7 linked regions of the Homo sapiens genome follow. The protein of the gene in region 1 purifies or fractionates together with the protein of each later gene. This does not show direct contact. Each region holds a gene or a part of one and is shown in the gene's direction. Other genes may lie near its edges.

Region 1 (3,500 bases):
AACCTGGTTGGGGAAATAAGAGTCCGGGTACCCTGAAACCCACAGCAATGTTGATCCCAGGAGATTTCTACTCCAGGCAGCTTGGGACAGAGGATGGCCAGAGGGCCAGAGCTGCCTCAAGCAAACACTGGGGCTGGGGCCTCAGCAGGTGGCCCAGGAGCCTGGGCAAGGAACAGGTGCTGCTGTTGGCCCACCAGCCTCAGGCCGCGTGTCTGGCTCCGGCAAGGGCTCCCCACAAGCCCCCTATTTGTGTGCACTGGGGTTCCCCTGCCTTTTACAGCATCTTTTTAAAATGCAGAAGGGGAGGCAAGGGCCGAGGCCACGGAGCCACTCCACAGCGCAGACCTCCCAGACTGAGAGGACGAGGAAGTCTTTAGCAGTGGAGGCGGCAGGGCCTAGTGTCTGCCTCAGGCAGGGTGAGGGGGCTTCCTCCTGTGCCCCTTGGGGGCCCCCAGCCTGCAGCCACCCGCACCAGGGCCACTCTAGGCCTTAGGTGCCCACCAGAATCCCCGCCTCACCCTGCACCGTCCGTGTTGGGAACCCTGGGCCAGGCTTTCCTTCCTTCCTGGGCTTCCTCTGGGGGCTGAGGCTGTGCCTTGCAGAGACTGCCAGGCCTGGCAGCACTGGGTGGGGGCCCTGGGGTGGGATCCAGGCAGTGGCAGGTGTCAGGACTGCAAGCAATGGGCCCCTGGAAGGAGAGGGAGGCGGGGGTGTCAGAAGCCAGAGGAGGAGGCCTAGGGTGGGTCCCTGGGGAGGCAGAGGGAGGCCCGAGCAACTCAGCTACAGGCCTTGGAGGACTTTGGTCCCCACCTAGCGTCGTGGTGAGGAGTGGATGTGGTCAGATCTGAGTTCTCAGACGACTGCCTGGCCATGGGGCAGAGAATGGCACCGGGGAGATTCCGGGAGGATGGTGGGGAGCTTCCCTTGGGCATCAGGGCGGTGGACAGCAGGGCCTCCTTGAAGCAGGAGTGGGGATGTCACAGGGTCATCAGTGACACAGCAGGGGCCAGACCTCCTGGCCCCATCCTGTTCTCAACCCTTCGGGGGGCTCTGCTGCGCTGACCTCGCCCTGCAGCTCTGAGCCACACATGAGCGACAGGACCCGACCAAAAGGGAACTGGGGGAGTTACAATTTTGAGATGTCGGAAACCGGGGAGGGGCTGGGGCCGGGAGTGGATTCTAGGCCCAGCTGGGTCTATTTGTCCCCAGGCGTCTGGCCGTGGGTACCCCTTGGGTCGTGGACGCACAGGAGGTGTGGGAGCTGACATCCCATGGGGCCTGAACTCCAGAGCTGGGCAGCGCTGGCTCAGGGAGGTGGCGCCTTGAGGGTTAGGACCTGAGCAGCGGCAGTGACTGCCCACGGGGAAACCAGGACAGTGGGGCTGGGTGGGGGCGGTGGGGGCAGGCTCTCGAAGTGGAGCTTGTGTTGCTGAGGGATGTGATGGCGGAGGCCCAGGCCGCCCCACATCTTGGTGAACCCTGGCTGGAAGGGCAGGCAGGAGCGAGACGGGTATCTGGAGTCTGCAGTGCCTCGCGCAGCCGTAGGAGGGTCAGGAGGACGCTAGGGCACAGGGTCAGGAGTGCAGCCCCCTGCTCTGAGCGGCGCAGCCCCCCCACCCCCCTCTGAGCGGCGTTACCCCCACTGTGGGAGTGTGGGAATGCTTTTCTGCAGGAGCTTCAGCCTTGGGGTTCCAGCACCTCCTCCTTAACTGGACAGGGTCAAGACCCAGATCCCTGAGCGCCAGGTTCCCTGCTCCCGGCCCCAAATCTGAGGCACTGGGTGCTTCCTTGTTGTCTGGGTGGGTGCAGGAGGTCGTCCTCACCCGACACTTGACTCCCGGACCCCCGCTGTCTTACCCAGCGTGTCCCAGGGAGCCTCCGCCACTGGGGGTGTGACACTGCCTAGACCACCTGCCTAAGCTGTGGATTTCTCCCAGGTGCAGCCTTCCACCGGGCACTCAGTGCCCAGGCTGTGAGGGCAGCTGTGGGTCACCTTCACCTCCTGGGGTGAATGGTTTTATTGCATGTGCTCTGGTCCTGGAGGCAGGAATCCCTCAATGCGCACAGCACCTACCCCTTCACCATATCTGCTACCCACTCCAGCTGAACTGCCCTTAGGTTCTCCTTGAAGAAGCATAGGAAAGGAGGTTCTGGGGACAAGGATGGCCTAGAAGGCCAGGGTGGTCAGCAAAGTCCCCAGGGGACCCAGTCCTCCCAGGAGAGGACCAGTGAGTGGGCCCTGTGGACCCCAGTCCTGGCAGGAGAGGTATGCTCAGTGGGTTTGGAGTCAGGAGCCATCACGGGAGGCCTGGAAGCAAAGACTCTCCCAGGAGTCTCCACAGGGGAGGGTCTGGCCCTGAAGGGGTGAAGTTTCATTTTCCAGGAGCTGCCCACGGAGAATCAGCTGTAGGCTATAAAACAATCCATGGCGTTTGGAGCTAAGGTGTCGCCCGGGAGAATCCTGAGGAAAGGGGCAAAGGTTGGGAAGTGCTGATAGCATCGGGGCAGGGAAGGAACCACCAGGGCTCCCTGTGGGTACCTGGCAGCTCCGCCAGAGGCTGAGAGAGAGACAGGGATGGTGAGTCACTCTTGGCCGCCAGCCCCCCCAGCCCACTCCCTGCCACCCCAGGAGCTCCCCGCCTCTGGGCGTGTGTGGCGCTCCCTGTGACCACACAGGCTTGTTAAGATGCCTGTCTGGGCCCAAGCTCCAGCACCCAACCAGCCTCATGTCTACTGCAGAAATGGCTGAGCTCTCCCAGCGTGGCCACCCCCACTGCCGGCTTCTCCAGGAGCCAGGGGCTGCACTGGGGCATGTTTAGAGTTGGGGTTCCCATCCTGCACATCATCTGCCCAGCGTCTGGGCTGAGTCCCACAACCAGGAGTCTCAGTGCACGATGAAGCCACCAAGGCTTTCCTCACCCACCCTTGAGACAAGAGTCTCAGGATACCAGGTGTCAGGGTGCCAGGTGTTGGCGTGCCAGGTTTCTGGGTACCAGGTGTTGGGGTACCAGGTCTCAGGGTGCCAGGTCTCAGGATGCCAGATCTCCAAGTGCCAGGCCTCAGGGTGCCCGGTCGCGAAGTGCCATATCTCAGGGTGCTAGATCTCAGGGTATCAGGTCTCAGGGTGCCAGGTCTCAGGGTACCAGGTCCTGGGATGCCAGACTCCACCCTCCCCCAAATCATGCACTCACCCCAGCTTCATCCCTTCACACTCAGCATCTCTCCTGCTCCACCTTTCCTGAGCTCGGAGCCTTCCTCCTCTGAGCTCCTGAGGACACCTCCTCCTCCAAGGTCTTTTGGCTCAACCAGGTTGATGCCACAATGGCAGAGGTTGTCTGTCTTATTCCTCCTGTGTCCCCAGTGCCTGTCCCCAGCAGAGTCCTGCAGATCTGAGCACGTGAATGGACATGTGGATGGATGGATGGATGAGTGAATAGATAGATGGATGGATGCGTGGATTGATGAATGGATGAATGGATGAGTAAATGGATGGAAGGGTG
Region 2 (3,500 bases), on another chromosome or scaffold:
CCTCACTGACCTGGGACTGTCAAGGGTCTGATGGTGACGCAGTGGTGGCCAGCCTTGCTTTAGGACCAAGAGTTCTGTTCTTATCCTTGATGCTCTCACGAGCTGTCCGTGGGGGTTACTGGCTCCCTATTTGTCACAGTCCCGACTCACCTGGGCCTTCATGGTCCTAGTAGGCCCCCAGGGGAAGGGGCTTCAGCTCTCAGCTCATGGCTCCAGCTGCCCAGCAGGTCCTCAGATGGACCCGTCCACTCAGGGACCCACATCTCTGGAGCACCTGCCATGCATTAGGCACTGTGCAGGGCCCTGGGACATGGCACGGCCCTACCTGCCTGTGTGATGTTCATCCATCAGTCCCAACAACAAAAGGGAAATGCTCTGTGGCCGAGGCTGGGGGGAGGGATGGAGGGTTGGAGCTCTGTGGGGGCTATCCCGGAGGGCTTCCCTGGGAAGGGACCTTGGAGCTAGGGGTGGAAGCTGAGGAGTCCGTGAATGGGATAAGAAGGTGGGGATAGCACCCACTAGGGACCACCAGGGCCTCCAGGGCAAAGTCCCCTCCAATGTGAGAGATCGGAGAGGTCCGGGGGGCTAGGGGTTATGGGAGGGATGAGGCAGAGTGTGGGGCAGGGAGGGGGCTGGCGCTGCTGTAGTGAATTGTGGTTTTGTCCTAAGAGCATGGGAGGCAGCCAGAGGGCTCTCCTTCCTTTCCTGCAGCTGGGTGCCAGAGAGTCTTGCTGAGAACCAGAGAGAACTTGGCTTGCAAGGTCACGGTGCCAGGGGCCAGCCATGGGAGAGTGAGGAGAGAGTGTCACTGGGCTCGGGAAAGGGGTCGTCCCTCACCTCAGTTTTTCCATCTGCAAAATGGGCCCTGCCTTCATCTCAGGCTGTTGTGAGAATCAGATGGACCAGCGTGGGGAAGGGTCAGGGTGCTGTGGGGTGGGAGGTGTGGTCAAGTGCAGGGGCCAGCCGCCTGGTCCTGGGAGGGTCAGGGCACAGCGGGGCAGGGCAGGCTCACCACACTGCCCTGGATGGTTTAGAAGCAGAGAGCATGGAGAATGGATGGATTAAAGCGAGGCCCATGGGGCTGGGCATGGAGGGCTCCTCCTTTGAGCTGGCGGGCGTGATGCTTTGCTCAACCTGAGCGGTATACAGTTGGCACTCCATGAGTGCATGCTGGCTCAGTGCTGCAGCAAGAAGCTGAGGCCCCCAGAGGCCTACAGTGATTCCTGACTCTGCCCCTCCCTAACTGTGTGGCCCCAGGCAAGTCGCTGACCCTCTCTGAGCCTGTTTCCTCACCTGGTTCCGAGATCTACCTTTGGCGGCTTTGCACTTGTACTCAGGATAAAACTCAAATTCTGCACAAGGTGTGATCAGATCCAGGTGGCGTTTCCAGCCACAGCTGGACTTTGCCACCTCTCTTCAGGCCTGTTGTAGTATCTTCATTCCACTGAGGGGTTCTGCGTAAAGTTCGTCTGCTCCCACCCCCAGCCTATGAGTTCCATAGAGCAGGCCTTATTCCCACCTTACTCAGTGTGCCTACCATGCATGCTTGGCATGTAGTAGGTGCTCAGTAAATACTTGTTGAGTGAGCAAAGCCTCAGGGAAGGCAGGCAGGGGGCCATCGCAGGATGGGCTATGCCGGCTGGGCAGGCCTAGGGGTGTGGGATTCTCCACTGACCCGAGGCCACGAGGCTACACCTTGGAGGTGCCGGCTGGCAGGACGGGTTGTTGGTGGGTTTTCTCCCAGCTCTGCCAGAGATGCGGGGGACAGGACCTAGGCTGTAGTCCACTGCATAGGGTTGGGGGCTACAGCTGCCTCAAGTCTAGGGGGCCCTCCTTGGCCTCCCGTACACACCACCTCCATGAAGTCACAAGTTGTGGCCTTGCCCTTGGCCATGGCCACCCTTGGCTGGACTCGATCCCACCATGGGGGAGGCCTGTGCTGAAGCCCCCTTCCCCCCACTGCAACCCGCATCCCAACCAAAGATGGGCCGGCCTTTCTCGGCCTCCTCTCCCGACAGCGGCCTGCAGTGGGAAGCTGGAGCAGCACACGGAGCGGCGTGGGGTCATCTACAGCCCGGCCTGGCCCCTCAACTACCCGCCAGGCACCAACTGCAGCTGGTACATCCAGGGCGACCGTGGTGACATGATTACCATCAGGTAGGGGCACCCGGGGGTGTCGGAAGGAATCAATGTGGGCCCACGTGCATGGGGTGGGTGAGAATGTGTGTGTGTGAGCAGGTGTGGAGGGCACACGCCTGAGGGTGTACATGTGTGTGAGCAGGTGTGGGATCATGTGCATGTGTGTGAGCATATGAGTGAGGCGTGTGTGAGCACTCGTGTGAACAGGTGTATGGGTGTGTGCATGTGTGTGAGCATTTGTGAGTAGGTGTGTGTGCATGCAGATGTGTGTGTGTGAGGTAGGCGTGTGTAGGTATTTGAGCAGGTATGTGGTGTGTGCATGCATGTGAACACATGTAAGTAGGTGTGTGTGCATATGTGTGTGTGTGCATGTATGTGAACACATGTGTGCTTGTGTACATGGAAAAGCCCATGTCGGAGAAGACATAAAGGACACATGTGAGAGACTGCATGTGTGAGCACATGTATGTGCACGAGCCATGCCTGCAAAGGTGCAGAGAGCGTGTATGTGCGCATGCATGTAAGATAACAGGTGTAACCATGTGTGAACCGTAAGCATGTATGTGCACATGTGAATGCATGCACGCAAGTGTGTCCAGTGCTCTGGGTCTCCACGGGCCTCTGTGGCGAGGTGCCCAAGCTGGACCTCTTCCTGGTTTGAGCCTCGTTCATGGGGTGTGGGGGGTCTCAGTCACTCAGCTCTGCCAGGAAGGCAGGGCCAGCACACAGGCCACTGGGAACACAGCCTGGGACTGGTGGGCATGGTCTGATGTCTCTGAGGTGGCAGAGGTGTCCTCTCTGTCCTGCAGGGGTGGCTGGGGGCCAGGCTGGCACTGAGCCCAGAGCATGGTTTCTGGAGGGGGCCTTGGGGAGGGGAGTGAATCAGGCAAAGCCCGGGTGCTTGAGCTGCAGGGACATGCAGAGGGAAAGGGGGCCAGGCAGTGAGCGGTGGTCCTGGCCAGGGGTGGTCACAGGGACATTTGGCTGGGGAGTCACTATAGGTTCCATCTGCCATAGTTTTCCTAAATGCCAGAGCCCAAAAAGCGCAACCCCTGACTTACTCCATAGCTGCAATGCGTGAGGATGTGATGGGCATGGGCAGGGTCTATCCTAGTCTCTGTGCCTCAGTTTCCCCAAGGGCCAGGTGGTTCAGGGCCAGTGTATCTCCGGAGATGACAAGCTGTCAACCTGCTGCAGCCTTAGCCAGCCCCGTGGGCAGTCTCACCCTCACTTCCCATGCCTGGGACTTTGTGCTGGGCCCATCCCAGTGGTCCCGAGGTGGAGGGTTCTGGGCCCTTGGGCCACTGCCCTTTTGGGGAGGGTGTCGGGGCAGGGGGCTCTTGACTTCCTGCTCCACTTCG
Region 3 (3,500 bases), on another chromosome or scaffold:
ACATCAGCCAGAAGCAGACACCTGTGCTCACCAGTAATGAGAACTCTGGAGGCCTACAGGATGAGGGATACAGCTTTAGCCTTGGGAAGCCTCGGGCTACAGAGTCATGGGGCCCCACCCCTCTCCCCACTTCACACACTGAAACAAGCACCAACACTAGGGCTATGGGGGGCACTGAGAGACCGTCTGGGAATGCTCCCCTGGAAGGCCTGCACTCAGAAGAGTGGTCTGCTAGAATGCCTGGAGGCAGGAGAAGGTAGTAGGCAGGTGGGGGGCCAGGGGCAGGTTGGGCCCGCTGGAGTGAAGACTGAACCAGGGTCTTCCCAAAGAAAAGGTGGGGATGGCCAGTAGAGGTATGTCCCAAAACAGAACAGACAGGTAAATGCCCCCAAACATCCTGTGCCGTCAGAAAGATCCATTGTTGGGAAGTCACAGCTAGTGTCTGTCCGGAATCCTTTATGCCATGGCCTGGGTTTGGTTCTCCTTTGGGCCACTCTTCCCCTGTGGTGATCTATGAGGCCCTCCCATGTGTGACACCATGCATTATGGTGTTATACCTTGATATTCTTCATAAGCGATGCCCTGCCCCAGCCATATCCTGCAGAGGCTGGGCTCTGGGGCACTTTCTTAATGATATGCAGAAAAATGCTCAGGCCTCCCTTTGTTGCTGGTGCCCATGGGACCTTCACTGGTGTGGGAGCAGAATGGTAGGACCTGGTAGACCCCTCCAGCGTCTGTGTGTCCCCAGGAAGCAGCCCACAAGCAGCTGATGAGCCGACGCCAGGCCTGTACAGCCCAGACACCGGAGCCACTGCGACGACACCGCTCACTGACAGCTCACTCCCTCCTGCCACTGGCAGAGAAGCAGCGGCGCGTCCTGCGGAACCTACGCCGACTTGAAGCCCTGGGGTTGGTCAGCGCCAGAAATGGCTACCAGGGGCTAGTGGACGAGCTGGCCAAGGTAACAACCTGGGCCTGGGCTCCGTGTGCCTGTGTGTACGTGTGTGTGTGTGCGTGCATATACATGTTAATCCATAGTGTTGGTGGGCCCCTCCTGATGAGTCCTCACCCAAAATTGTCACCAGCCAGAGGAAGGCTGAGGGTCCTTTTTGAAGGAAAGATTTTTTTTTCTTTTTTTTTTTTTTTTTTGAGACAGTCTCACTCTCATCCAGGCTGGAGAGCAGTGGTGTGATCCTGGCTCACTGCAACCTTCACCTCCTGGGTTCAAGTGATTCTCCTGCCTCAGCCTCCCAAGTAGCTGGGATTACAGGTGCGCGCTGCCATGCCCGGCTAATTTTTGTATTTTTAGTAGAGACACGGTTTCAGGCCATGTTGGCCTGGCTGGTTTCGAACTCCTGACCTCAGGGTCCGCCCATCTTGGCCTCCCAAAATGCTGGGATTACAGGTGTGAGCCACTGCACCCAGCCAAATTTTTGTATTTTTAGTAGAGACAGGGTTTCACCATGTTGGCCAGGCTGGTCTCAAACTCCTGACCTCAAGTAATCTGCCCACCTTAGGCTCTCACAAAGTGCTGGGATTACAGGTGTGAATCACCACTCCTAGCCTGAAGGAAAGATCTTGAAATTAGTTAGAGAGGAAGGTGTTCTTGCAACTCTCTTTTTTTTTTTCTTCCCCACATTAGCTGGGTAATGTGCCCAGGTCAGAAGGTTTGAGAGAAGCATATCTCACACAAGAGCATGAAAACCCAATCCTCAGCTTATGACCTACAAAAGTATCCTTGCAACTTTCTTTTACTAAAAAACAAACAGCCTTGAAACCAGTTAGTCCTCAACGGGCAGAGGCCCTGAGGACATGCCTTGAGGATTTGGAATACCATCCTTGAGATTTTCCTTCTAGGAAAACAGCCTTGAAGCCTGTTCTTCCGAAGAGCCTCACAGTGTGTAGCTCTTGGGCCTGTGTCAGGCCCTAAGGCTCTCCTGCCAGGAAGGACCACTCATCCCTCCATCTGTTCCCCAACCCCAGGACATCCGCAACCAGCACAGACACAGGCACAGGCGGAAGGCAGAGCTGGTGAAGCTGCAGGCCACATTACAGGGCCTGAGCACTAAGACCACCTTCTATGAGGAGCAGGGTGACTACTACAGCCAGTACATCCGGGCCTGCCTGGACCACCTGGCCCCCGACTCCAAGTAGGTGCTGCTTTCCCGTACTTGGAAGGTTACGAGTGACTTCTCACCCCTGCCCATGTCACCTTTGCCCTGCTATCTCCCAGCTTTGAAAGGGGAATCTCACCCAGCACAGCACAGTCCCTTCCTAAGTCTGGTCTTTGAGCCTCATTTACAAAGTCTTGGGCTCAAGTGCAGCCCCCCTCCTCTGTCTTCCATCAGTGAGAAGTCTTCCTCGGGGTCTCATTTCCTTTCCAGCCACAGAAAACAAGTTTCTTTGGTGGTAAAGTGTTTATTGGATGAATTCTCTGGGGCCTTCTTTTAATCAGGAGTTCTGGGAAGGGGAAGAAGCAGCCTTCTCTTCATTACACTGCTGCTCAGCTCCTGGAAAAGGGTGTCTTGGTGGAAATTGAAGATCTTCCCGCCTCTCAGTATGTGTCTTTGGAGGGCAGGATGTCAGCCCCTTCCTGTCCTCTAACCTGGGGGTGGAGCTCTGGGCTGGGCACCGGGTGGAAGAGAAGAAGCATGGTCCCGATCTTGAAGGAGCTGCTAGAATGATGGTGGAGACAGAGCATGCCCAGACAGAAAGTGAAGGGCTGTGGACATGGTCTAGCACAGTTCTAGATGCCCTGAGGCAGAGGGTACTGGGAAAGCTTTCCAGAGGTGAGAACAGCTGCGTAGGGCGGGGCAGATAAAGAGATGGTGTGGGGAGCAGAAGTAAAATGGAGAAGACAGCGAGCTGGGCCCTCTGGGAGTGACAGAGGGAAAACTGGTTCTGGATGACACCGCTGCCCAGGATGAGGAGCAGTGGGTGCAAGAATGTGGCTGTAGCCCTGGAAAGAGGCAGTGGGTTCCTGTTTTGAATCCTGTTCCTGACAGCTTCAGAAACGTCATCTTTGACATCACGCCGGGAGATGAGGCAGGAAAGTTTGAAGTAAATGCCAAGTTCCTGGGTGTGGACATGGAGCGATTTCAGCTTCACTATCAGGTGAGGGGACAGTCCCATGAGCCTGCAGGACATCTGCTGGGCTTTAGGTGCTGGCCTGAAGAGAGCAGCTGGCCTCACTTTCCTAGTCCTCAGATGACACCAGCTCAGTTTTTCACCCAATCAGTATCGTCTGTTCCTGAAGAGAAGGGTGGGGGTCTGTGCAGCCCAAGCCCCCCTTTCCCCATGCCCTGACACAGACCCCACTGGCAAGCATCAGGGAGAGTGGAGTGGGCTACTGGTGTCAGAAGCAGGATTAATATTTGAAGCCCTATCACATGTCAGGGACTTTACATGTTACCTCCTTTAATCCTCTCCACAGCTCTGAAGTATTATCCCTATTTTACAGGCTCTAGGCTAAAAGGTTAAGAAGCTGGCTAAGTCATAGG
Region 4 (3,500 bases), on another chromosome or scaffold:
TTCATCCTCCCAAAGCTCTGAACTATAGGCACGTGCCACTATGCCCCCAATTTTTTGTAGATATGGGGTTGGTGTGGGGGTGTCTTGATATGTTGCCCAGGCTGGTCTCCAACTCCTGGCCTCAAGTGATCCTCTCAAAGTGCTGGGATTACAGGTTACAGGTGTGAGCCACCATGCTTGGCCAGGTTCACGAATTCCTATTTTTTTTTTGGAGGTAGGGTCTTGCTCTGTTGCCTAGGCTGGAGTGCAGTGGCATGATCGCTGCTCACTGCAGCCTGGACCTCCTGTGTTCATGTGATCTTCCCACCTCAGCCTCCCAAGTAGCTGGGACCACAGTTGTGTGCCATAACACTTGGCTAATTTTTATAGAGCCAGAGTTTTGCTATGTTGCCCAGGATGGTCTTAAACTCCTGGGCTCAAGTGATCCTCCCACCTCCGCCTCTCGGAGTTCTGGGATTACAGGTGCAGATTCACACATTCTTTTTTTTTTTTTTGAGACGGATTCTTGCTCTGTTGCCCAGGCTGGAGTGCATTGGTGTGATCTCCGCTCACTGCAAGCTCTGCCTGCCGGGTTCACGCCTTTCTCCTGCCTCAGCCTCCTGAGTAGCTGGGACTCATTTTTTTGTATTTTTTAGTAGAGACGGGGTTTCACTGTGTTAGCCAGGATGGTCTCCATCTCCTGACCTCGTGATCCGCCCACCTCGGCCTCCCAAAGTCCTGGAATTACAGGCGTGAGCCACCACGCCCGGCCAGATTCACACATTCTTTTTTTTTTTTTAAAGACAGAGTTTCGCTCTTGTTGCTCAGGCTAGAGTGCAATGGCATGATCTCGGCTCACTGCAACCTCCGCCTCCCGGGTTCAAGCGATACTCCTACCTCAACCTCCTGAGTAGCTGGAATTACAGGCATGCACCACCATGCCCAGCTAATTTTTTTTTTTTTTTTGTATTTTTAGTAGAGATGGGGTTTCTCCTTGTTGGTCAGGCTGGTCTCGAACTCCCGACCTCAGGTGATCTGCCCATCTCGGCCTCCCAAAGTGCTGGGATTACAGGTGTGAGCCACCACGCCTGGCCCAGATTCACACATTCTTAAAAGTGAAAGGGATCTTGGTCGTTTGAGCCTCACCAGTTTATTTGTAAGTGGGGAAACTCAGATTCAGAGATACTGTAATTTAATAAAGGTAGGTTAATTAAAGATGGGGCAGGGATTTATTATTCATTCTTTTAGCAAATATGTATGGAATACCTCCTATATGTCAGCCTCTGGTACTGATGGTGAGTAAAACAATGTGTTTCCTAATCTAACGGGCCTCACAGTTTAGGTTGCCATCCTTACCATTTTCTTAGTTCCATTCGGATACTGATGAGAAAAAATAATATCTGATCTTCTGCTGGAAGTATTTTTGATAAGAATATAGGTTTTGGAATACCATCGGTGTGTGTAATCTGTGAAATACTATTTCTTAGCTTGCTTTTTTTTTTTTTTTTGAGACGGAGTCTCGCTCTGTCGCTCAGGCTGAAGTGCAGTGCCGCGATCTTGGCTCACTGCAATCTCTGCCTCCTTGGTTCAAGCGATTCTCCTGTCTCAGCCTCCTGAGTAGCTGAGACTACAGGTGCCTGCCACCATGCCTGACTTATTTTTGTATTTTTGTATTTTTTTGGTTTTTGAGACGGTATCTCACCCTGTCGCCCAGGCTGGAGTGCAGTGGCATGATCTCAGCTCACTGCAACCTCTCCCTCCTGGGTTCAAGCAATTCTCCTGTTTCAGCCTCCTGAGTAGCTGGGACCACAGGCTCACACCACCATGCCCGGATAATTTTTATATTTTTAGTAGAGACGGGCTTTCACCATATTGGTCAGGATGATCTTGAACTCCTGACCTCAAGTTATCCACCTGCCTTGACCTCCCAAAGTGCTGGGATTACAGGTGTGAGCCACTGTGCCCGGCCTAATTTTTGTATTTTTAGTAGAGATGGGGTTTCACCATATTGGTCAGGCTGGTCTCGAACTCCTGACCTCAGGTGATCCACCCACCTCTGCCTCCCAAAGTGTTGGGATTACAGGCGTGAGCCACCGCGCCTGGCCTTTTTAGCTTTTTTTGAGGAGGCTTGTTATATAAAAATTCTTCGTTACTTTTTTTTGTTTTGGTGGGCTGGTAAATATTGTTGGAACAAACCACTAATGTTTTGCATCTTGTATTTCTGTAGAAGCGATCCTTTCTTCCTTTAAAATCAGGTGTTATAAAGTCTTGGGGAAGTAGAACAAATTTTGGAGTGGCAATCAGGAGAATTAAGTTATGGTTCTAAATTTGCTGTGTAACCTTGAGTGATCTCTGTACACTTTATTTGGAGATTAGAATTCATGTTAACACATTAAGGGTTCTGAAAAGTCCTGAGGTAAAGAGACCGGTTTTAACTTTGTTTAACCTATTATTTTCCAAACTTGTCAAGTATTACATTGATATTTGATGACAGTTTCATATAGTTAATTTGATACTGTCATTCCTGTTTACTTACCTGGCTTCAGGTTTGCTCATTTGGCTAAACAATAATTTGTCTGGTTATTAAATTTTAAGGTTTTAGCTTGTTATTATCAGAAGGGCTAATAGTGATTTCCTGTGGTTCAATTTTTTTTTTTTTTTTTGAGACGGAGTCTTGCTCTGTCGCCCAGGCTGGAGTGCAGCGGCGTGATCTCAGCTCACTACAAGCTCCGCCTCCCGGGTTCACGCCATTCTCCTGCCTCAGCCTATAGGCGCCCGCCACCACGCCCGATTAATTTTTTGTATTTTTAGTAGAGATGGGGTTTCACCGTGTTAGCCAGGATGGTCTCGATCTCCTGATCTCGTGATCCGCCCGCCTCGGCCTCCCAAACTGTTGGGATTACAGGCGTGAGCCACCGCGCCCGGCCATGATTCAATTTTTAAGAGATTTTTTTCTTTGCTTTAATTGGAAGTTTTTCCATTTGCTGTACTGAACTACTGTGTCCTTATATATGCTTTGGCTGTCAGAAAGGACTGTTTTAAATATCAAAGGAGATTCTGGGAAGGGATATATTAATGGAAAATATTTTATGAGAACGTATATTTTTTGTTTAAATATTTTGCGCATACTGGAAAAATAATGTTTAGTGCTATTTAGGCCATGGGTAACTACTCTGAGAAAGATTATTTTCATCGTAGAAATTCTATTGAAAGTTTACATTTAGAGAAGATTATATGGAAGGTACTATAGCAGAAAGACATGGCTTGTTGTTAAACAGGCCAAGTTAAACTCTTCTGCCGCTTTGTGTTCCTTTGGACAAGTTATTTCCTTTCCTGTTAGGTGGGGATATAACTTGCAAGACTTCTGTGAGAACTGACGAAATGTTTGTAAAGGGGTAGTAGAACGCACAGTCAATAGTAGACATTGAATAAATGGTTGCTATTATTAAGATGGCCGAATTAAAAGAAACATTATACTCTGGAAAGACTGGTAAAACATTTTAAGTGTCGCTATGTCCTGG
Region 5 (2,647 bases), on another chromosome or scaffold:
CTAGTGCCAGGGACAAAGCAGATGCCCAATAAATGTGATGTCATCACACGACAATTCCCTCAGGCCCCAGTAGACTCAGGCCAGCAGTTGCGGTGGGTCAGAGCAAGTGTCAGGCCAGCAGTTGCGGTGGGTCAGAGCAAGTGTCAGGCCAGCAGTTGTGGTGGGTCAGAGCAAGTGTTAGGCACTCGGGGAAGGTGTCGAGGGGGAAAGCGGATGGGAAACAGAGTCTGGCATTGCCTGCATTTCCAAGGCCATCAGAGCTGAAGTTGTGGGTGACGGTGAAAATCTTGTCTCATTGGACCCTTCCATATCAGAAGGCTCATCTTTAGGGGTCTCATTGCCCCCCGAAATCAAGCTTGGGAGAGGCTCACACTGGAAAGGGCGGGGCAGGATGGGGTGGGGAGGAGATGAAGGCTGAGGCCCCATCACTCATAGAGAGGGTAGGCAGGGCCCCCCATCCTGCGTTATTTTATTTTATTCTTTTGAGACAGGATCTCATTCTGTTGCCCAGGCTGGAGTGCAGTGGCACGATCATGGCTCATCGCTGCCTCGAACTCCTGACTCAAGTGATCCTCCTGCCTCAGCATCCTGAGTAGCTGGGACTATAGGCAGGCACCACCACACCTGGCCAATTTTAAAATTTTTTGTAGAGACCAGAGTCTCACCATGTTGCCCAGGCTGGTCTCAAACTCCTGGCCTCAGGCAATCCTCCCGCCTCGGCCTCCCAAAGTCCTGGGATTGCAGGTGTGATCCACCACGCCTGGCCCTGAGTTAAATTTTTATCATTTTCCTCTCTGTCAAACTGCTAAGGGTGCAGAGTTGACGTCACAGATTGGTGCTCACAGTAGATGTAGACTGAGCACTTACCTGCAGCTGGGCTGTTCTAGGTTTTAAGCATGACTGCTTTATCCCCACAGCCAGCCTTTGAGAAGATGCTCTTGTTATCCCAGTTTTTTTGAGACAGTCTCGATCTGTCACCCAGGCTGGCGTGCAGTGGTGCGACCTCTGCCTTCCAGGTTAAAGCGATTCTCGTGCCTCAGCTTCCCAGGTAGCTGGGATTACAGGCACCCGCCACCACGCCTGGCTAATTTTTGTATTTTTAGTAGAGACGGGCTTTCACCATGTTGGCCAGGCTGGTCTTGAACTCCTGACCTTAAGTGATCCACCGGTCTCAGCCTCCCAAAGTGCTGAGATTACACGCATGAGGCACTGTGCCCGGCCGTTATCCCGGTTTTATACATAGGTAGGCGATATGAGGCATCCAGAGGTTCGAGGAGCTCAGGAGCTTGCCCGAGGTCACAGAGTGGGTAATGGTGACAGCTAACATGTGCTGAGCACTTAGTGTACACCAGGTTCTCAGTGCTCTTCAGAACCCTGAAATAATCCTGTGGAGCAGATGTGTTATAGACCCGTATTTCAAATGAGGGGATTTTGGCTCAGGGTGGTTACGGGACTTGCCTGAGGTTAACTGAGGTAACAAGCAGCAGAGCCAGGATTTGAACCTAGGCCATCGGGGTCACAGGCACACACTAAGCCCCTTCCTCTGCTGCCTCTGAGAAGTTAAACTGGGTGCAGCATGGCTGTGCTCTTTTCACCAAGGGACCCTGGGGTGGGGCAGTATGGCCTCTAGACCGTCCTCAGTTTCTCAATGGCAAGGTGGGGGTGGGCGACATCACCCCCCAGCCTCCAGCGTTCACCCCCGACCCTGCTCACCTCCTCCCCGCAGATGAAGTTCTCGCTGGAGAAGCTGCACCAAGGCATCACAGTCTCAGACCCTCCCTTTGACACCCAGCCCCGGCCCGATGACAGCTTTTCCTGAGGACCCCGGCCACGCAGCTGTTCCCCCACATGGACAGATGGACACACAGAGCCTCGGCGGCCACTGCTGGCACGGTGTGAGCGCCAGGCATCTCCCACCCGCCCCTCCCGACGGCCCAACCAGGGGCTGTGCAGACGTGGGGACCACGGAACCGAGATGCACTTTAGACCAGGGAGCTGGCCCGGCCTCTGGCAGGCCCCCCACTAACTTATTTTGCCCGGCTGAGGTTGTGGGGGGCGCCTCCTGGGGTGCACGATTCCCTCAGCTCTGGGTTTAATGTATTATATTTATTTGGGGCCGACAGTGCCCCAATAAAGGGTCAGAAGTGGCTGTGGCTGTGCCTGTGGGGCCCTGGGAGTGGGTGGGAGCCTCCTGTTGCACTCAGATCCTGCCATGGTGGGGAGGGGACCTCTGTCTGTGTTCTGGGGCCATAGTCACTGAAACGATCTGGAATTCCCGCAGCATCTTACACAAGCTTTACATCATCTGAGGTCAACGCAGGAACTCCGGGGACAGACCGTGGTAGCTGGAGTTCAAATCCTGCTTCCTAGCAGTGGTGTAAATGCAGCAGGTCAGCCCCCTGGAGCTCCAGTGAGCTTTCCTGTGCAATGGGTAGAATGGCAGTAGCTGTCTCTCAGGGTTGTTAGAAGGCAGTGGTTCTCAAACTTGAGCTGCATTCGAATCTCCTGGAGAGCTTGATGAAAAACAGACTGTGGGCCCCTCCCTCCAAATTTCTGGTTCAGTAGGTCTGGGGCAGGGCTGGGATTCTGCCTTTATAACGAGTTCCCAGGAGTTGCTCATGGTGCCATCCCAGACGACACTTTGGTT
Region 6 (3,500 bases), on another chromosome or scaffold:
GTGCCTATTTTATGTTTCTGAGTACATTTGCATTAGCACCAAGGCAGAAACTAGAAACTCAAATTGCCTACATGGACCAAGCAGTGAAGTGAACTACATATGAAAAGAAGGCGACAGCTGGGCCGGGCATGGTGATTCATGACTGTATTCCCAGCACTTTGGGAGGCCAAGGTGGGTGGATCACCTAAGGTCAGAAGTTGAAGACCAGCCTGGCCAACATCGTGAAATCTTGTCTCTACTAAAAATAAAAAATTAGCTGGGCGTGGAGCTGCATGCCTGTAATCCCAGCTACTCGGGAGGCTGAGGCAGGAGAATTTTTAGAACCTGGGAGGCAGAGGTTGCAGTGAGCCGAGACTGTGCCACTACACCCCAGCCTGGGCGACAGCACAAGACTCTGTCTCAAAAAACTAAAGGCAGCTGGGTGTGGTGGCTCACGCCTGTAATCCCACCACATTGGGAGGCCAAGGCAGGTGGATCACCTGAGGTCACAAGTTACAGACCAGTCTGATCAACATGGTGGAACCCCATCTCTACTAAGTAGAAAAAATTAGCTGGGCTTGATGGTGGGCGCCTATAATCCCAGCTGCTTGGGAGGCTGAGGCAGGAGAATCACAGAATCGCTTGAACCTGGGAGGCAGATTTTGTTGCAGTGAGCCGAGATCATGCCATTGTACTCCAGCCTGGGCAACAAAAGTGAAACTCCGTCTCAAAAAAAAAAAAAGGCGACAACTATCTAGGTCTGGTCAACTAAGACCTATTTTTGCCAGATCTTCAAGTCTGGGCACAGTGTAACACCAGCACTTTGAGAGGCCAAGGCAGGAGGATCACTTGAGCTCAGGAGTTCGAAACCAGCCTGGATAACTTAGTGAGACCCTGTCTCTACAAAAAATTAAAAATTTTTTGCACTCCAGCCTGGGCAGAGAGTGAGATCCTGTCTCAATTATAAACAAACAAACACTGAGAAAGCCAAATCCAATATGTTTATGGGCCTGTGGCCTGAATGATAGTATTTAACTATCAATGTAGTGTATGTATCTTCAACTGGTGTCCAAAGACATGTTCTTGGGAGTCTGAATTCTCAAGTTTGAATAACAATGGTAGGCTTCCAGTTAAAGACGGTAGATTGGTAGATTGGGCTGCGCGTAGTGGCTCATGCTTGTAATCCCAGCACTTTGGGAGGCTGAGGCGGGTGGATCACTTGAGAACAAGAGTTTGAGACCAGCCTGGCCAACATGGTGAAACCCCGTCTCTACTAAAAATATAAAAATTAGCCAGGCATGGTGACATGTGCCGTAATCCCAGCTACTTGGGAGGCTGAGGCATGAGAATCGCTTGAACTCAGGAGGAGGAGGTTGCAGTGAGTGGAGATCGCACCACTGCACTCCAGCTTGGGTGACAGAGCAAGACTCTGTCTCAAAAAAAAAAAAAGGTGGTACATTGAATATATATTCCCAAAAACTCCCCTAAAACCACCATAAAGGAATTTTTTTAAAGAAAAAGACACAAACACACCATAGGGAAAACAGGAGAGGAGATAATAGCAATGAATTTTTGGAAGCTGAAAAGCAGACAAAAGAGTGATGAATGACTTAGACCTGAGAAAACTGAATTATAACTAGCAGTGAGGAAAGCCAAGAAGCATTGAAGGTCTAAGAAACAGTCAGATCCCAAGACACCCTACCCCATTGAGTACAGTGGGCAACTCTGCCTCCCAACTGTGGCAGAGACTGGAAATCTGGCAAGGGACTCGGGCACAGCTTAGGGCTGAAGTACTGCACTGAAAACAGGAGCATGTAGTGAACTATACTCGATGCTGAGCCTCCAGCCCTTTCCCCCTTTTCAGTTTCCAGAGCGCTGGCAGAAGAGCCTTCACCCTCCAAGCATGAAATTGAATAATCCTTCTCTCCAGAATCCTCTTGAAGGGAAGTCCTAAAATATATAAGTATTGAATGTTCCCTATCCAAATGACTCACTGTCAGCAAGGCTCACTTACACACTTAGAGCTTCCACTCAGCTTTAAAGCCTCCACTCTTAAGTTATGGTTTAAGTTCTCCTTTAAACTAGGGATTACCAAACATCTAAAGAAAGGATCTGTGAAAAAAAGTGATCCAAACTGCCCCCCACCCCACTCTGGAATGTACCTTTGTTTTACTCTGAAGGCTGTATCTCCCTGGTAAAAAATAAATAAAAATGAAAAAGCAAACTGCCTCTCCCAACCTCATGTACACACAGAAGAAACAAACAGGAAAAAAGCAACTGGAAGGAAAAGATGAGAAGAAAACTTTAATAACATTAATATAATCTTAGATAAAGGAACATATTTCTCAATACCTGTGAAAGTAGTATATCTTTAAAGAAAACAACAGCCGGGCACGGTGGCTCACGCCTGTAATCCCAGCACTTTGGGAGGCCGAGGCAGGCAGATCACCTGAGGTCAGGAGTTTGAGACCAGCCTGCCCAATATGATGAAACCCTGTCTGTACTAAAAATACAAAAATTAGCTGGGCATGGTGGCATGTACCTGTAATCCCAGATACTCGGGAGGCTGAGACAGGAGAATCGCTTGAACCCAGGAGGTGGAGGTTGCTGTGAGCCGAGATTGCACCATTGCACTCCAGCCTGGGCAACAAGAGTGAAACTCTGTCTCAAAAAAACAAAAACAACAACAACAAAAAACCTTATTTCCACCATGAAACAAGTATAGGATACAATTTTTTAAAGAAGGAATTTTCAGAAAACAAAAAGGAACTCTTGGAAATTAAAAATATAGTAGCAAAAATTTAAACCCAGCTGGAGGTTTCAAAAATCAACATGAGGAAATTTCCCAGAAAGGAGAGTTAAAAATCAACAAAGTAGAAAATAGGAGAGAAGGTGCAGTGGCTCATACCTGTAATCCCAGCACTTTGGGAGACTGAGGCGGGAGGCCAGGAGTTCAAGACCAGCTCAGCAACACAGCAAGACCCTGTCTCTACAAAAAAATAAAAATTAGCCAGGCATAGTGGCATACACTTGTAGTCCCAGCTACTCAGGAGGCTGAGATAGGAGAATTGCTTGAGCCCAGAAGGTCAAGGCTGCAGGTGAGCCATGATCTCGCCATTGTACTCCAGCCTGGGTAACAGAATGAAAGCCTGTCTCTTTAAAAAAAAAAAAAAAAAAGGAGAGGAAAGATTCCAACAACCCACAAAACAAACAAACATTTAAAGGATCAGTCTAGGAGGTCCAGTATCTAAATAGGAGTCATAGAAAAAGAAAAATGGCAACACAGAGGGAAGGAAATAATTGAGGAACTAATTCAAGAACATTTATTGGAACTTGAGGACATTAGTTTTCATATTGAAAGGACCCATCGAATATTCAGCACAATGGATGAAAGTGACCCACCCAAAGCACAGTCATCCTGAGATTTCAGAACACTGGAAACAGAGATCCTATGAGTTTTCAGAGAGAGGAAAAAAAAGTCACATACAAAAAGTCAGAATTGCCTTGGACTCTCAACAACA
Region 7 (3,500 bases), on another chromosome or scaffold:
ACATAAGGATGAAATAAGTTGATACATATGATGTATTTAGAATAATAGTTCCTAGAAGGTGGAAGGTACTGAACATTATTTTAAAGAGCCTGCTATTTTATAAAGCTGGGTTTCAAACAGCTTTTTAAATAAATTGGACAATATATTCAGGTCTGTATTACAAAATAGAGGTTTCTTACTTAGGATGTCTGTGAATTCAGTTAACATTGTAAGCAAATTTTATGTATGAATTGTGTGCTGGGGAGAAAGTCCTTTGGCTTTCACTGGAGTCTTGTCTTTTTTTTTTTTTTGGAGACAGAGTTTCGCTCTTGTCACCCAGACTGGAGTGCAATGGCGCGATCTCGGCTCACTGCAACCTCCACCTCCCAGGTTCAAGCGATTCTCCTGCCTTAGTCTCCCGAGTAGCTAGAATTACAGGTGCCCGCCACCACGCCTGACTTATTTTTAGTAGAGATGGGGTTTCACCACATTGGCCAGGCTAGTCTCAAACTCCTGACCTCACGTGATCCACCCCCCTCAGCCTCCCAAAGTGCTGGGATTATAGGCGTGAGCCACCACGCCTGGCCTCACTGGAGTCTTAAAGGGATCATAAACCCCATAGAATGTTATGTCACTGATGTGGTATCCACTGATGTATCCTCCAACAAATTACAATTGAAAACCAAACCAAAACAAAAAGAAGCCCTTCACTTTTAAATTAACCATATTTTTATTATCTTAAGTGCTGTTATTTATTAAAAGTAAAGAAGTAGAACTTTATGTTAAAAGAACATTTTCATATATGTAATACCTAGGTTATGAATTTTTAAATGCGTATATAACTAAGTTAATATTGAACCTAATCTTATCTTTTCGATGATCCAAAGGCAGTTATGGTTATTTCAGTACCTGAAGGTCATGGTAAGCATTAATCATCGTGATACTGTGGCTGTGGTAGAAGGTTTAATAGCACTGTAATGCAACGGGATTTCCTGTGTCCACGTAACTTGAAGCTCAAGGCACAATTCTTTTAGATAAGAAAATATCTAAAAATGCTATATTATAATTGACTTATTGCTTTTAATAAAGAGGTTTCTACTATGGATATCTGTTATTTACTGAATATCTTAAAGAGAAAAAATTGTATTGTTGTCCATTATGTTGTAGTCTAGACTCTCCAGTTAGTGCTTGCCCAGCCCATGACAAAAAACTGTATTCTCCCTTTTTTCCCTCCTGTTCATGTCTATAATTAGGTAGGAGTCATCACTTCCCTTTAATCCCATTTTACTGAATATCTACTGAGTGTAAAGAGCTTCTAGGAAGTCTGACGTGGGCAACCAAATGACCTAGAGTATAGGAAGAAAATGTAATTTCTTTTTTTTTGAGACAGGGTCTTGCTCTGTTGCCCAGGCTGCACTGCAGTGGCACAATCTCAGGTCACTGCAGCCTCTTCCTCCCAGGCTCAAGCAATTCTCGTGCCTCAGCCTCCCAAGTAGGTGGGATTACAGGTGTGTGCCACCACGCCCAGCTAATTTTTGTATCGTAGAGACAGAGTTTCACCATGTTGCCCAGGCTTAGAATTTCTATTTATCTGAAAATAAGAAAATACAATCTTTATTAATACTGAATATATAGACTCACCACAATATATGCATATATTTTGTAAGTAAATAGGTGTGTGTACAAATATTTTTAACTGATGGTGTTGTGTAGTCAGCAAAATTTGAAAACCACAGCTCTAAAAGATACAAAGAACTTTGATATAATCTTTTAAAATAGGGTTTTATATTATTAAAGTAGCACTGATATTCCCTGCCTATGAACTGCTTTATTTAATGTATTCTGATTCATTTATGGTAATTAGAAAATTTATTTGAAGGCTGGGCACAGTGGCTCATGCCTGTAATCCCAGCACTTTGGGAGGCTGAGGCGGGAGGATTGCAGTTCAAGACCAGCCTGGGTAACATGATGAGACCCCCATCTCTACAAAAAATTAGCAAGGCCTGGTGGTGTGTGCCTGCGGTCCCAGCTACTCAGGAGGCTGAGGCAGGAGGATCCCTTGAGCAAAGGAGGTTGAGACTGCAATAAGCCATGTTCATGCCACTGCACTGCAGCCTGGGTGACTGGGTGACTGTCTCAAAAAAAGAAATAAAAGAAAAATTATTTGAACTGTTTTGGCACTGATTAGACAGCTGTGAGGGAGTGGAAAGGGGACTGACTTTGGAATCACTAAATGGGACTTGATTCCTGGATCTGCCACTTTCTATGACCTTAGGTGAATTGCTTAATTTTGGGCCTCAGTTTCTTAATATGTAAACTGGAGATAATGCCACAACCACAAGGGTAGTAGTGAAGATATAAATGTGATGGGAAATGGTACATAGAAGATGGTTCAAAACTGTGTTTGATATGCTTATCTTTTATCAGTGCTGTACAGCAAGAGTTTTTCAGTGTTATTTGAAGTGACTTCAGTTGCTTATTTATACCGTAATAATTGCCTGATGTATCACAAGTATTTTAAATTGCCTAACAAGAAGTAGGATTTTTGGAATTTGCACAGTAAGACCAAATTTACTGATTATTTATGACTACAGTCAGTACTGTTTTTCTTATTTCTATTTATCCAACCCTTCCAAATAGATGCCTTCCAGTTGACTTAAATTTAATATCTCCTGTGGCGTTTATACATATATATGCACACATTTATGCAAAAAGCTATTAAAGCAGTTCTGATAATTAACTTACTTAGATGTGGCTGAAAACTTTATTCTTAAATTTCAAAAATGTTTATATAGAAGCAGCCATTTTTCTCAAGCATTTTTTAAAAATTCCTGCCATTTGTGAATTATATAGCAAATGATTACCTAGGTTTTGGCATTAAGCCCACTTCACTACTTCTTACTAGTAAAACAAAGGATTACATTTGTTCAGTTATATAAACCTGTTCTCATTACTTAGTTTTGAATCAGGAAATTGAAGCGTTCAGTCTGTCCGAAGACACTTCATCGGGGCTGCCTGAGGATCGAGTTGTCAGCGTGAGTTTCCGAGTTCTCTACCCCATCGTTATTACCAGTCTTGGAGTGTTCTACGATGCCAATGATGTGGGTTTCCAGAGGAACATCACTGTCAAACTTTATCAGGCAGAACAAGAGGTATGCACTGCTCTGTACAGGTTTTTTCTCTTTTTTCTTTTTCAAAAACATCAACTTTTCCTTGTGACATACAGTAAGTAGATTGGAAGACTATATAATTCTCTCTGGTTGAGAGACTTTCACCTTTCTTCCCCTATTGACTAAATACACTGTAGTGTGATATAAGACTGGTTTGGGGATAGATTATCTGTGAATAAATGTGCTATATCTAGAAGAGAAGGAGTTGACTAGATTAGAAATCTCCAACCTAAAATTCCCTAAAACCTAGGGAATTTCAAAAGTTGGTAATGGATATAAAAAAAGTTTAGGATTCTTAGGATAAGTGAGTATTATTGCCTCTTACTTCCAACTGTAGAAGTCTGTAATACA

The links.
Region 2: the proteins of SLC9A3 (region 1) and LRP3 purify together in Homo sapiens (affinity purification with mass spectrometry; one large-scale study listed by BioGRID and IntAct). This does not show direct contact.
Region 3: the proteins of SLC9A3 (region 1) and IQGAP3 purify together in Homo sapiens (affinity purification with mass spectrometry; one large-scale study listed by BioGRID and IntAct). This does not show direct contact.
Region 4: the proteins of SLC9A3 (region 1) and LRP6 purify together in Homo sapiens (affinity purification with mass spectrometry; one large-scale study listed by BioGRID and IntAct). This does not show direct contact.
Region 5: the proteins of SLC9A3 (region 1) and GRAMD1A purify together in Homo sapiens (affinity purification with mass spectrometry; one large-scale study listed by BioGRID and IntAct). This does not show direct contact.
Region 6: the proteins of SLC9A3 (region 1) and PRKAG1 purify together in Homo sapiens (affinity purification with mass spectrometry; one large-scale study listed by BioGRID and IntAct). This does not show direct contact.
Region 7: the proteins of SLC9A3 (region 1) and B3GALNT2 purify together in Homo sapiens (affinity purification with mass spectrometry; one large-scale study listed by BioGRID and IntAct). This does not show direct contact.

What each region holds. Positions count from the first base shown.
Region 1 is NC_000005.10:517,950-521,449, reverse strand, and holds part of SLC9A3 (sodium/hydrogen exchanger 3 isoform 1 precursor), read left to right. Parts: intron 1-3,500. UniProt on the Homo sapiens protein: Plasma membrane Na(+)/H(+) antiporter. Exchanges intracellular H(+) ions for extracellular Na(+) in 1:1 stoichiometry, playing a key role in salt and fluid absorption and pH homeostasis.
Region 2 is NC_000019.10:33,200,830-33,204,329, forward strand, and holds part of LRP3 (low-density lipoprotein receptor-related protein 3 precursor), read left to right. Parts: intron 1-2,018; coding exon 2,019-2,157; intron 2,158-3,500. UniProt on the Homo sapiens protein: Probable receptor, which may be involved in the internalization of lipophilic molecules and/or signal transduction. Its precise role is however unclear, since it does not bind to very low density lipoprotein (VLDL) or to LRPAP1 in vitro.
Region 3 is NC_000001.11:156,527,566-156,531,065, reverse strand, and holds part of IQGAP3 (ras GTPase-activating-like protein IQGAP3), read left to right. Parts: intron 1-748; coding exon 749-961; intron 962-1,636; exon of another isoform or gene 1,637-1,736; intron 1,737-1,983; coding exon 1,984-2,150; intron 2,151-2,455; coding exon 2,456-2,557; intron 2,558-3,005; coding exon 3,006-3,114; intron 3,115-3,500.
Region 4 is NC_000012.12:12,260,545-12,264,044, reverse strand, and holds part of LRP6 (low-density lipoprotein receptor-related protein 6 isoform b precursor), read left to right. Parts: intron 1-3,500. UniProt on the Homo sapiens protein: Component of the Wnt-Fzd-LRP5-LRP6 complex that triggers beta-catenin signaling through inducing aggregation of receptor-ligand complexes into ribosome-sized signalosomes.
Region 5 is NC_000019.10:35,024,323-35,026,969, forward strand, and holds the end of GRAMD1A (protein Aster-A), read left to right. Parts: intron 1-1,726; coding exon 1,727-1,819; 3' UTR 1,820-2,147; downstream 2,148-2,647. UniProt on the Homo sapiens protein: Cholesterol transporter that mediates non-vesicular transport of cholesterol from the plasma membrane (PM) to the endoplasmic reticulum (ER).
Region 6 is NC_000012.12:49,008,777-49,012,276, reverse strand, and holds part of PRKAG1 (5'-AMP-activated protein kinase subunit gamma-1), read left to right. Parts: intron 1-2,887; exon of another isoform or gene 2,888-2,968; intron 2,969-3,500. UniProt on the Homo sapiens protein: AMP/ATP-binding subunit of AMP-activated protein kinase (AMPK), an energy sensor protein kinase that plays a key role in regulating cellular energy metabolism.
Region 7 is NC_000001.11:235,483,953-235,487,452, reverse strand, and holds part of B3GALNT2 (UDP-GalNAc:beta-1,3-N-acetylgalactosaminyltransferase 2), read left to right. Parts: intron 1-2,937; coding exon 2,938-3,131; intron 3,132-3,500. UniProt on the Homo sapiens protein: Beta-1,3-N-acetylgalactosaminyltransferase that synthesizes a unique carbohydrate structure, GalNAc-beta-1-3GlcNAc, on N- and O-glycans. Has no galactose nor galactosaminyl transferase activity toward any acceptor substrate.